Linked DNA regions of Homo sapiens. The protein of the gene in region 2 interacts with the protein of the main gene of each other region in a biochemical or structural test. Each region holds a gene or a part of one and is shown on either strand. Other genes may lie near its edges.

Region 1 (3,752 bases), on a different chromosome or scaffold from region 2:
TGTTTTACATACACTTGAAGAGGAGTCATATACTCACACTTATTAGGATGGCTATTATCAAAAAAAGAAAGGAAAAAAATTAAGTATCGGCAAGGATGTGGAGAAACTGGAAATCCTGTGTGCTGCTGGTGAGACTGTAAAATGCTGCAATCACTATGGAAAACATTATGGTGGGCCCTCAAAAAATTAAAAATGTAACTGCCGTATGATCCCACAATCCTATTTCTGGGTAAATATCCAAAAGAACTGAAAGCAGGGTCTTGAAGAAATATTTGCACACTCACATTCCTAACAGCATTATTCACAACAGCCAGGAGGAGGAAGCAACCCAACTGTCCATCAATGGATGGCTAGATAAAATGCGGTATATACATACAACGGAATATTATTCAGCCTGAAAAAGGAAGAAAATCCTGTCAACAACTACAACATGAATGAACCTTGCGGACTCTACACTGAGTGAAATAAGCCAGTCGCAAAAAGACAAATACTTCTATGAGGTTTCTAACATGATCAAATTCACTGAAACAGAAAGCAGCACGTTGGTCACAAGGGGCTGGGAAGTGAGAGGAAAGGGGAGCAGTTGTTTATTCGGTATAGGATTTCAGTTTTGCAAGACGAAAGTGTTCTGAAGATTTGTTTCACAACAATATGAATACATTTCACACTCCTGAACTGTACATTTAAAGATGGTGAAGATGGCAAAGGGGTCATACTTTTGAAACTAGTATCTACAAATAAAGATAGGGTAATGTCCTTTTATAAGGGCTAGTGAAACTATTAGATTTTAATAGAGTGGCAACAAATGAACTGGTAACTAAACTCATAAATGGACAGTATTATTACATAATCCACTTTCATTCTGAAATCTCTGCAGAAATAAAACACTGCATTAGAATAAGCTTATTTATTGCAGACAAAATATACAAATCACATGACTCAACTTACTCAAGTCTCTAAAGCCAGCCTAATCTTGGGCCCCAGTTTTTCTCATGCACAAGGAAAGCAGATGAGTTCTCTGATCCCGTAAGAAATAACTGCAGGGGTTTAGACTGGTATGAAGTCTCTATGGACTAGCAGTGTCATCTCAGATCCCACACACCTTAGAATCATGAATGAACTGAAACCACTATGGACCTGAATACCTGGGCTCTGATTATAATCAAACCATATCCCGTCTACTCAAAAAATTTTCAAACTTAAGCACAAAAAACTGGAATACAAAAGCAAGTTTTCAAATTGCTCTCACCTAAATCACAGAGTGAAATTAAGCAGACTTTATCTTCCTTTATACAAAAATAATCACCAGGTATGTTTTGGGAGTAAATTTTAAACAAATGTGCAGTTCATGGACTTTTGTTAAGATACAACTTTAAATATTTAGCTCTAAAGAAACAATACATCAGCTGAAATTCAAAATTAGTAAAAACTTTTCTGCTTTCAATAATTTTTAAATCTTTAAGCCATCCTTCAAAGATACTACCAAGTATCTATCAGCACTAGACCAATGATTTCTATATTACATTGCGAGTATCAATTATAAAATGCACTATTTCATGTGTCAGAACACAGAAACACTGTCAATTAAAAATGACATATACCAGATATTGAAATATTTAACAGTTGGTATTTTAGAACAAATATAATACAGTACGTACATGCTTGTCCCTCTGAATAATCCAAAAGTACAGGAACCTAATCTATGTATCAACTACAGGGGGGGACACCAAACCCCTAGAGACTCAAACTTTTTTAAATGCATGAAAAGTCAATATAAACTACCAGTTCAAAGAATCAATCAATAAATGATCAATGCAGACTGAAAATCCAAAGACACTTGGCACCCCAAACAGATAACTAGATAACTCACTGCGGCCTAAACAAGTGATTTCCAAATTAAGGAAGTGAAAAATCTAAGCACTCAATGACTCCAAACAGCTCAGGTGGCCAAGACCCCTGTTCTCCTTTAATCCAGTGGTCCACAGGTACCAACTCAGAAGACAGAGTGCCACTTACTGAGAGAAAAAACCTTTCAGTAAGTGGCACTCTGTCTTCTGAGTCGGATTTTTCTGCAAACACTATGGACACAATGAACTGGTTTAGCTTAGGGCAGTTTACAAGCTTAAAGTACATTTATGACACTGTTTCAAAACAATGGTAGAGTTGCAAAATACAAAGAAAATCTTATCAGACTAAACATTTTCAGACTAAGTATTAAAAGTTATTCAGGAAACACAAGAGAATGTATTTATTCCGTAGTATCAACAATTATAGCATGGAAACACACAGAACCTCTATTAAACGTTATCTATTTCAAAACTCCTAAAATCTATTACTTGTCTTACACCAAAATGTGATATAGTACCACATCCTATAGAACATTAAATATAAGTAAATTTAAATGTCAAAGTAAATTCACAACCAATGAAATTAGAAGATTCACAAATATAAACTTAGTAATTAGGAAGCTAACTCTAGGCCAGACGCGGTGGCTCACGCCTGTAATCCCAACATTTTGGGAGGCCGAGGTGGGTGGATCACGAGGTCAGGAGATCGAGACCATCCTGGCTTACACAGTGAAACCCCGTCTTTACTAAAAATACAATACAAAAAATAAAAAATTAGCCGGACGTGGTGGTGGGCACCTTTGGTCCCAGCTACTCAGGAGGCTGAGGCAGGAGAATGGCGTGAACCTGGCAGGCGGAGCTTGCAGTGAGCGGAGATCTCGCCACTGCACTCCAGCCTGGGTGACAGAGTGAGACTCTGCCTCAAAAAAAAAAAAAAAAAAAAAGAGAAGAAAGCTAACTCTATCAAAGTTCAATTGTACGTAAGAATAGACACATTCAAAACAGGCAAGGCAGAATAGGTCAAAAATGTCTCTGAACACAGCAAACCCATCCCCAATCTAGACAGAAATATAAATGTAGATTCTGTTATTTCACTAACGATTTAATTTTCTTAAGTTACAGCCATCACACAAAGAAAAGTCTGCAGTCTATCTATCTGCCTATCTATACATATATGTATATATATATCTCTATACTGTTGCGAAAAAACATACTTTTTTTGCAACAGTAACTGCACCAAATTACTAGGCTCAATGTTGATTTAGAAAACAAATAACTAAAAAATGCTTTTTGCTGTTTTTCCAGAGGAATCCAATTTGATCATCCATTCGGACCTTAAACCTCAGAAATTCAAATGTGTAAAAAATGTCCATCAATGTAAACAAAAATGGCAAAATGTGAATTTCTGGAGCTGGGTAACAGTTAAAAGGCAGTTCATTACACTGTGCTATGTATCCTTATGTTTTTAAAAGTCTATTAAAATGTTACATTTTTCAAAATTGTTCAGGTGCATCAAGTGGTCTTTACAAAAATCTTTCATTCTAAAACCGTAGAGAGCATCCATTTATCAATAATGTACCTGACAGGACACACTGACTTGAAAGTAGTCTTCAAATCACACCAACAATTATTCTATCAACAGATAGATGTAAGGCCATATCTGACTGGAAGTTACTGAAGAAATAAATGTAATATAATTAAGTATATGTCTTCTTATGTTAAAATGTTATATAGTTGATAACTAAAACAAAAAAAAAAAACTTCATTCTTAGAATTGGAAGAGACAAACTTTCTAGTTCGGTGGTTTGCAAACTTTTTGAGGTACCTGGACAAAAGAGCCAGACAAGTCACCTTGTTTTATACATAGGAGATTATACACAAAATATGAGATGATGCTTTTAAAAA
Region 2 (3,752 bases):
CAGCAATCAGAGGCTTCCTTGGATGGGACTTATACTGGTAATATTAATGAAGAAGCTGCGCGGTACTGGCAGTGATTCCAGACCAAATCTTTTAACTGCCGAATGTCACTCGCTGAATTATGAGTTGGGGAGCTCTGTTGCTTAAAATACAGGGTTCTCAAACACAATGCAAGTGTTTGTCACCTCAAGTCGCATACTACCCAACAGGAAGCAAAAGGCAAAGGGCATGGCGCAGAAAAGAAACAGACACACAGACACGTTTTGCAATGACGAACTTTATGTGACATCAGGAACGGCAACCTGTTCTCATGTTTAGCAATTCCGAGGAACGCTGTAAAGACTGCTTGTCAGGTAAAACTGAGTACAGGAATAAGAGGCAGCGCTGGAGACTTTTTCGCAATCCTTTTCAAAATATAGAACAGTAACCAAATGACTTAGATAAGCTAATTAATTATTTAAAAAAAGGTTCACTGGATGCCTTTATCCTCTCCTCTTAAGCTTACGTGATCACCAGCAGCGCTGTTCAAATTCAGCTAACAGCTGTTAGACCAAACACAGATCCGCAGTGTGTTATCTCCCCAGAGTTACGGATGTTCGCTGAGACCCGCCAGAAAAATTAGGGTCGCTTTTCAATGAGAACATAATAAAGGATCCTTGGTTCCCCCTCTGCACACACTGTCCCAAACCTTGCGCCCCCTCCCACTTGCCTGCTGTCGGATTTCTTAAAATTGTAGTCGGTCCTGCAACTCAGTTGCATCTTCCGCAGCCCGACCCTCTACTCAGCGACATTGCGTTCAGTTTCCCTCCTTTCTCTCCTCCCACTCCTCACTTCTTGAGACCCCACCCCCGCCTTCCGTTTCTGTCTCGGCTTCCCCCGCGCCAGGTTCTCTAGACCCCCGCCTCCGCCCAGCGTCTTCATCTCGAGCCCCCGCTCCCAATCCCCTTAGAGACTTCTATGCTCCTTCCGTGGAACCTAAGCTCCTCTCTTCTTCCAGAGACTCAGTCTCCTCGCGATTTGCGCGTTCAGAGTCCCTCCCCCCAACCTCCGCTAGGGCCAGTGCGGTCCTGCAGGCTGCAGCCATCCGGGACCTGTCCCCGCTCCCCACCCCATCCCCCGCCTAAATCGTTGGGGTCTCGGCTAGCAATGCCGCCCGGGGCTCCAACTTACCACTAGCGTCCGGGAGGAAGACCAGGCAGCGGTCGCCGCGGCGGCAGCTAGACGAGAAACGGACTCGGCTGCAATCGCCCAGCGGAGCCCGCGGCAGTCGGTGCGCTGAGCTGCGCTGCGCTGCGCGCCGCAACCTCGCGCCTCGGCGGAGGGAGAGGAATGGAGGGAGCTCGGCGCGATAGGAAGCGCCGGCGAGTCGACCTCCTTTGGGTGACCGTGCGCCCCCCGGCTAGGTTTGGCTCTTTTCGCTCCGCTATCTTACTCTAGCTTAGTAACTGACCACCTCCAGCATCTCTGCACTAATCGCGTCTTCTTTCTTCTTCGTTGGCCCCTAACTAACTACACTACTCTAAACGGACGAAGGCCATCACACGAGCGCCACGACGATCGCGACGACTCCGACGACAACGATGTACAGACAGAAGAAGAGTTCATATGCAATCGGCAGGTAAGGGGCAAGGCAGGCCAATGGAGCAGCCAAGGCTAGCAATCTAGCCGCTCCAAAGGCAGTATCGGGAAGATCGGTGCATCTGAGGAAGGAAGCGTCCTCGGCAAGCACCAGAGCGCCTACCTCGCGCGGGTGAATCTGCACCACGCTCTTGGGCCAAAAGCGGGATGAGGGGAGGAGCCAAGAGCAGCCAATCAGCACTCAGCATTACGTGGCCCCCGGGCCTGTTTGGACCGGTCTCTTAGTGCATCTGGAGCCTGCTGGCAGGGGGCGCGAGACCCCATGGTGGAGATGGGGGTGGGGGTGATGATTAATCTGATTCACAAGGCCTAGAGAGTAGGGGGAACCAGGATCAGCCATGGCACCGGATAGAGAGAGAGGGAAGGCTTTCTCAAGAATGTACCCTCAAAGATTCATAGCATACCCCTCCCCAAACACACACACACACACACACACACACCCCTGTACATTTCATTTCAACAAACAGCATTCTCAAGTCTTGCAAATTTCATCAAGCTTTGAAACTCCCTTCAAGGGTCTCTGTTCCGACTCTTGCCCATTCCTCCAACAGTAGCAACTGAGGCACTCACAGGGTCAAACATTTGGTGAGTGCGCAAAGGCCACAATCCTGTTATAAGGCCCACTTCCCCATCCTTGTCTCCCCATCCTTTCCCTAACCCCAAAGGAGAAAGAAAAGCTCTTGGCCTTCGAGCCCCGGGAAGGCACAGTTTAGTTCCTTTCTTGACCCCACAGGCCTCATTAGAAAGACACCTTGAGGGCAGCTCTTACGGGTTTCCAAGGGGGTGAACATATCTCTCTGGCACAGGGCCTTGGGCCCACAGCCAGTCGGTTGCCCAGTCGTTGTGGGGGAGGGAGGGGTGCTGTCAATGCAAGGTCAAGGCAGCAAGAGGTGAACCACAAAGGCTCTCTTTTGGCAACTGCTGGGATGCCGAGCTGCAACCGGTCAGGCAGAGCTCTAACCGGTCAGGCAGAGCTCTTTTTCACAGGCTCCCAGGCGCAACCGGGCAGGTGCCTGCGGTGTCCTGGCGGCAGCGCAGAGAAGGGTGAACGGGGCCCCCTTGGCTCAGAGGCACCAAAACCAAGCTGAGTAATGGAGATGATCCCACGGAGAATGGGGACAGAAGCAGATCTCTCCTAAGAGGGAACGAAGGGGCGAGCGGGGGTGGTGGTCTCGGGTCGCGGCCGAGGTTTCTCGGCCCTGTACCGAGGACCGGGGTGGGAAAAGTGGAGATTGGCTCCCCGCCTGTCGGAGGTAGCTGGACCGAAGCAAAAGATCGAGCCTCCGGTTTGGCTACTTAGGACCGGACGGCAGCGCAGCGAGTGTATAGAAGAGGCTACAGAGAGGCCGTACAGAGAGAGGCTTGGAGGACCTAACCCGGCAGAACGCAAAAGGGGTGGGAGCTGCCGGCTATTCTGAAGGCCGAAGTTTGCCTCAGTAGCCCCAAAAGTTAGAGATGGAGAAGGAAGTGGAAGCAATGATAAGGGTCAGGCCCCTTCCTTATTCTGGATGCCCTAGGAACAGTCATTTCTCTCTGTGCCTCTGTTTCCATATTTGTGAAAGGAGCTGTCCAGTCTATTCCAAAAGGGGCATTTTGGGAATCCTCTGATTCCCTCCATCGCCACTGAATTCAGGCTTTGAAATTTAATTTGGCAGTGAACATACTGTCGGCACCCAAGTTCTGTTTCGAAAAGCAAAAACCCATCGCAGTTTTCTTGAAGCATCTGTTGAATGCTGCTGTATGATGCCGCACAGGTGGCTGCGACAGCGCTGCCAAGTCCACCGACTGCACAACGCTCGCATCTTTAGAAATGCTTTGGTAGCGAACAGTAATTTATAAATATGGAAGAGAAAACGTATGTCTTCTCTTTAAATAATTAAGCACTCATCTTTAAAAACTCCCCAAGTGTCCCCTTACTCTATGAATGTGGAATGCTTAGTCTTGCCTTTTCTGGCGGGACTCGTATTTATTTTGTCAGAGGCTGAGACATTTATATTACTTCAAAAAATGTAAATATAAATCCCTGTGATATTTTTGCTAAGCCAAAATGGATCTGCCGAGCAGCGAGTGGAAGTTAGCATCCGCCAAAACCTGTTCTCGCTCCCCGGCTCCCGGG

Evidence for each region. Proteins that work in one complex are often made in the same cells at the same time.
Region 1: the proteins of HTR2C (region 2) and DLG1 interact in a test that uses a peptide from one of them, tested with the Homo sapiens proteins (2 studies listed by IntAct, with this or other methods).

What each region holds. Positions count from the first base shown.
Region 1 is NC_000003.12:197,291,888-197,295,639, forward strand, and holds part of DLG1 (disks large homolog 1), read right to left. Parts: intron 2,062-3,752; exon of another isoform or gene 1,991-2,061; intron 1-1,990. UniProt on the Homo sapiens protein: Essential multidomain scaffolding protein required for normal development. Recruits channels, receptors and signaling molecules to discrete plasma membrane domains in polarized cells.
Region 2 is NC_000023.11:114,582,076-114,585,827, reverse strand, and holds the start of HTR2C (5-hydroxytryptamine receptor 2C isoform a precursor), read right to left. Parts: upstream 1,743-3,752; 5' UTR 1,169-1,742; intron 1-1,168. UniProt on the Homo sapiens protein: G-protein coupled receptor for 5-hydroxytryptamine (serotonin).